2 separate regions of the Homo sapiens genome follow, and region 2 is linked to region 1. Evidence: fine-mapped expression QTL. Tissue or cell type: whole blood. Region 1 holds a variant in brackets; the other region holds the start of a gene. All regions are shown on one strand. Distances are from middle to middle.

Evidence for each region. PIP is the estimated chance that this variant, and not a neighbour inherited with it, causes the effect.
Region 2: POC1B starts here. The variant in region 1 is fine-mapped to the expression of POC1B in whole blood (INTERVAL, PIP above 0.99).

The regions. Positions count from the first base shown.
Region 1 is chr12:89,474,813-89,477,570 of GRCh38, reverse strand. The region is part of intron 4 of POC1B-DUSP6 (POC1B-DUSP6 readthrough); the gene reads left to right. All of the region lies in intron 4 of POC1B (POC1 centriolar protein B), which reads left to right. Among named protein-coding and RNA genes, the nearest start is that of GALNT4, 49 kb to the left of the region's middle. The variant G/AAG (reference allele first, on the strand shown) is at 1,661.
Region 2 is chr12:89,524,745-89,527,502 of GRCh38, reverse strand. It overlaps POC1B (POC1 centriolar protein B), which reads left to right and starts at 1,456. Exons shown (of 12, transcript NM_172240.3): 1 at 1,456-1,622; 2 at 2,299-2,383. The coding sequence starts at 1,608. It overlaps POC1B-DUSP6 (POC1B-DUSP6 readthrough), which reads left to right and starts at 1,456. Exons shown (of 11, transcript NR_189589.1): 1 at 1,456-1,622; 2 at 2,299-2,383. It overlaps POC1B-GALNT4 (POC1B-GALNT4 readthrough), which reads left to right and starts at 1,241. Exons shown (of 3, transcript NM_001199782.1): 1 at 1,241-1,622; 2 at 2,299-2,383. The coding sequence starts at 1,348. POC1B-AS1 (POC1B antisense RNA 1) reads right to left here and starts at 1,933. Exons shown (of 2, transcript NR_146294.1): 1 at 1,707-1,933. It also overlaps GALNT4. RefSeq lists silencers at 1,501-1,760, 2,311-2,690.

The DNA of each region.
Region 1 (2,758 bases):
CTAAGAAAGAAAACACTGAATAAAGAGGAGAAGAAGAGAACCTTCCTCTTCAAGAGGAAGAGGGTGAATTCATTTGGGCAAGTTCAGAGCTGGAGGTTCCTGCAGGATATCCAAAAGGGGATGCCCAGCAAGCAGTTGTACTCATGGGTGGAGATTCCAGGAAGGAATTCTGGGCACATAGATGGTAAATTCCCGAACAAGTAATTTTCATGGCATGCTTCATCTTTTTACATATTTTTCATCTGCTTTTTGTCTCTCAGCAGTTGCAGAAATGAATCCTGCTACTGTAGTCAACAGATGGTTTCTCTTCTAATGCTGACCAACACTTAAAAAAAATAAATGTTTTGCTTATTGACTTGAACTTCACCTTCAATCTGTAAACATCAAATTCTATCAGCGCAAACTCTGAGACTGCCAAATTTTTAGAGTCTGTGAAAATTTTAGGGCTGATTCAATCCAGACTCCTTCATTATACAAATAGGAAATGGTGGCCATTACGGTTGTGAGTTTACAAGATTACATAGCTGGACAGTTGCAGAACTGGCCCTAGAATTCAGGACTTGGTATTTACTGAGCAGTCTTATTTCCACTACTTTTTACTGCTTCCTCCTACTACTGAAGAGCTGTTGGCTTCAGAGTTCCTCTTACTAATGATTTGTGTCTTACGGGACATGAAATAGTGCCTGCCCTGTTTGGTCCCAGAGCCCTGAGTGCTGGGAATGTGTTTTTATAGAAAATGTATTCTGAAGATAAGAAATAGCCAAAGGAAAATTTGAATTTTTTATAAAAGTGTCTGTCTGTCTGTCTGTCTATCTATCTATCTATCTATCTATCTATCTATCTATCTATCTATCTATCTATCTATCTATCTATTGAGACAGTCTCACTTTGTCACCCAGGCTGGAGTGCAGTGGTGCGATCTTGGCTCACTGCAGCCTCCGCCTCCCTGATTCTCTTGCCTTAGCCTCCCAAGTAGCTGGGATTACAGGCATGCACCACCAGGCCCAGCTAATTTTTGCATTTTTAGCAGAGATGGGGATTCACCATATTGCCTAGGCTTGTCTCAAACTGATGGCCTCAATGATCTGCCTGCCTCAGCCTCCCAGAGTGCTGGGATTACAGGCATGAGCCACCACACGTGGCCTTATGAAAGCACTTTAAGACTTTTCATGGTTCATGGACGTTTTTGGTTCTGTAATGAACAAGTAACTATGACTATGAATATAGACATAAAATTTTTACATACAATTACAGGAACTCTGTAGATTCCAAGTTAAAAAGACTCCTGTTATATAATTTGGGCTATTTTCAAGGACATGTGAATCAGTTTTACTAGAAATAAGTTCAAGAATTTCCTCATTCTGGGCTGGGCACAGTGGATCATGCCTGTAATTCTAGCACTTTGGGAGGTGAAGGCAGGAGGATTGCTTGAGCCCAGGGGTTCAAGACCAGCCTGGGCAACATGGCGAAACCCTGTCTCTACAAAAATTACAAAACTTCGCCGTGCAAGGTGGCACAAGCCTGTAATCCCAGTTATTTGGGAGGCTAAGGTGGGATGATCACCTGAGCCCTGGAGGTCGAGGCTGAAATAAGCCGAGATTGCACCACTGCTTTCCAGCCTGGGTGACCCTGTCTCAAAAAAAAAAAAAAAAAAAAAAAA[G/AAG]AATTCCCTCATTCTTTTGAGTGAATACCAGTAAAGTTTAAGGAATTCAGTAGTAGTTCAGCTAACTTCTCATATGCCTCTTAAACTCTCGAATGTCCATGTTTGCTGATCCAGTAGTCACTATTGACTAATGTAATATTCATCTTGGTGACACACTTTGTAGACGTTTTTAAAGGCAGTTGGGTGGTACTAAATTAAGAGAGTCAGAAATCTATTAATGTCTTAGTAGAAATTTTATATCCTCTTTAAATTCTTAAAAGTCTAGTTAGATGTTATTTGAGCCCTGACGATAAAGGACTAACCTTTCCTAATCAAAGTCAAGGCAAAGAGAAGCCTGTTTTATTGGTGCTAACCTATTTTTGATGTATCTAATTAAAAATAAAAGGGAGGAGGAGGAAATAGAAATCATCATTCTCACTTTCAGCCACCTCAAATGCAAAAAAACACATACAGAGAGCATATGCAGGATTATAATGCAGTGACCAGAGCAGGGGGAAGGCCTTAACCTCAGTCCCCTTTAGTTTCTGTTAAGTTGATGGTAGAAACCTCGCCTCCTTCTGGCACCAGGTTCTTCCCAGCCACTGCCTGTACTTTAACTCATTCGAGGTTCACATCCCTTCATTTATTTTGCTCTGGGAAATTTCTCCCAGCTATGGGCCCTCCTGCTCAGGAGGCACTTTTAGCTGACCAAGATAACACTTTTCCTCATTTGCAAGTTTCTTTAAAATCCTGTTTCCTCTATGGAGCTTCTGGTAACAAATTGGCACCTGTTTTGTTAACAACCCTTTTTCCTATCACTTTCTAAAATTATGTTTTTTGTGTGCCCTCCCTTCTCCCTAGAACAAAAGCCTCATAAGGGCAGGGATCTTGCCAGTCTCATTCACAGCTATATTCCTACTACCCACAGCAGTGCCCAGTGCCAGGTACTGACAAGTGCTCAGGGAATCTTTGAATGAATCAGTGGGTGAAAATTTTTCCCACAAACTCCACAAGGACAGGGACCATGTCTGTTTTACCTACAGCTTATGGCAACACACACAGATGTTTATTCAAGGATGGTGTATAGCCTCCTAACAGCACTGCCTCGTGGTTCCTCTC
Region 2 (2,758 bases), 50 kb before region 1:
TCCAGCATTAGTTTTAAACATGGCAGGCTTTTAAAATAAATCAAGCCTAAACTGGTAATATGTAGCAAAACTAAGAGTCCTGCAACAGTTTGCTGACAAGTTGCTGATATCAACACTCTTAACATATCATCTCCTAGACTAATGCAGTGTTTCTCAACATAGACAGCTGAGACTCCCATAGTAATCATCTATGGAGCTTGTTACATCAGAAGGGCCCTGGATCCCACCTTGTATATGTTGATTCAGCATCTCTGGAAATGGAGCCCCCAAATCAACATTACAAATGCTAAAGCATGAGACTCACCAACCCTAGATTGCTGAGTTCTTGAAGGTAGGGGAAATATCTTAGTCATCATTGTGTCCCTCAAGGCCAAACATACAACAGATATTTAACAAGTGTATACTTAAATTAACTAATACTGTAATCTAAAGCCTACCTGTTTAGTTGTTAAGTACCATATTCAATAAAATTAAACTCAATCACTAGACAACTAGGGAATCTGTAATTAAGGTGTGTAGCATACCTTTCATTTGCATAAAACACATGTCTTACCAGCTGTGTTCTATCATGCCCTTTGATGTTGCTAAGGATCTTTACACTATATGTAATTTTCAGCTCAGAACATCACGCTTTGAGGCAGGGTTAAAAAAAAAAAAAGGATATGGACTTGGAATTAGAAGAACTGTCTCTGTGTGACCTCTAAGACCAATATCTAGGAATCAAGTTTATAACTTGGAAACATTGAAAACATTTTGTAATTCTACCAACTTCATTGTTTGGCTGAAGCACAAATGATACTATGTGTAACAAAGCCTGCTGTAGAAACGTGGTCTCACAAAAAACAAACAAAAAAAACCATGTTTCCAAGTCTTCCTAAAGACTTTAAGTATCCAGCTGTGTAAGTTTAGTGCTCTAAGGTATACGCAAATAAGCAGATGAGAATGGAAACATATCGCAGAAAATTATTAAGTGCATGCACAACATTTATTCATTCATTCACTCATTCATTCATCACGCACATCCAGCAACTATATCAATATCCTGCAGGGCACTGTGTGGAAAACAGTGGTTAAATAAATTCAAATCTGCCCTCAGGGGATTTAGTTCCTTTTAGTATATTAATAACTAGCAAGCTGCCCCTCTTCATGTCAAAGCTTTACGTCAACAAAATAAGCGGTAGGGGATCACCTTAAACGTCACGGGTGCTGTCTCTTTAAAACGTAATAGAACTCTGATCGCATCGATCACAGGCTCACAACGCCCTTCCATTCATCGCTCTTATTCCAGTCCTGGTTACTACCCCACTTCCTGACATCAAACCAGGGAGAACGCGAGTGTTAGTTAACATGGCTTGGTGTGTGGCCACAGCTGACCCGGCGCATACCTCCCGTCCTCTCTTTACAGGGCTGGCGGTGTCTCGGGGCTCGGCTGGCCATGCCTGGAGCGCGGGGTTTGACTGGGCCGCCGTTGTTGTAGTGACCGGGAGGCGCTGCCGCTCTGGGCAGACGGTTCCGGGAGCCGCACGGTCCCCTCTCCTTCCCCATCCTCTCCCCTCCCCTCTCCGGGTTCCCCCACCCACAGGAGCCTTGGGCCGACCACTCCCCCGATGGCCTCAGCCACGGTAAGGACGGGTTGGAGGTGGGGGGGGTCCCTCCCTGGAGCCTGTCCCGCGGGCTGCGGGGCCAGGTCCGGGCCGAAGCCGCACCTGGAGGGAGATGGAGGCAGGTGTCCGTAGCCGGGTCCTGAGCCCCTCGTCCCGGGGCGTCCGTATCTCACTCTCTGCCATCGGGGCGGACGGAGTGCGGAACCCAGACCCGGCTCCCGGACGCTCTTCCCCGAGTTCCGGAGCTCCGGACTGAGCTGGGCGGCCCCACGGCCCCCAGAATTCTCGGAGGGTTTCCGTGGAGCGCCTGCGTCAGAATCACCTAGGAAGTATTAAAAAAAAAAAAAGTACCAAAGCCGAGGCGCATCCTCGCACCTGCCTGCCTTGGGCCAGCGGGCGGGGCCCGGGAACGTGCATTTCAAAGGGGCCGCGGTTCCTGCGATGCGCTGGACTCTGGGAAGCGCGAACAGAGCGTTTTGCGGGCTCTGCGGGGAGAGCTGGCGCCGGCGTCTCCCTGTAGCAGGACTGGGCGCCGCGCCCGTGGGTGGGCTGCTGCCCGGCCCCGCCGCCCAGCCAAGCCGCCGCCTGGGTGGCCATTCCCAAGCCGGACTCCGGGGAAGTGGCAGCGTGGATCCCAGCCGCCAGAATTCGAGGTCTGCGGCGGCTTTCAAAACTTGACAACTTTCCTTTCCAGGAGGACCCCGTTCTGGAGCGTTATTTCAAAGGCCACAAAGCTGCGATCACCTCCTTGGACCTCAGCCCCAACGGCAAGCAACTTGGTAAGTCTTATTCTTGTTTTGCTTTTGTAATGAGACTAAACTCCATGGGCCGGAAACCTTTCCTCCTGTCCGGGCAGGGTCCCTAGGAGAACGGCTAAGGGCCTGTATGAGGGTTGAGAGCACCCGGAGACGAGGGCCCAGCGCGGCGGGGCGCAGCTAGGGCCCCCTCTGCCATCCCGGCCCCCAGCCCCCGGCCCGGCCAAGAGCCTCCTATCCAGCGGTCTGGGCCTGGCGGACGACTTTCGCAAACTAACCACCAGGAGGAGTGAGTGGGAAGGGGAGGGGTTTCTCCTCGGCCCGGGGAGGGTGGGGTGTTGGCTGGAGAGTTTGTGAAAAGTTGTGAGCCGAGCAGGAGGAAGTAGGGAGAGAGGAGTT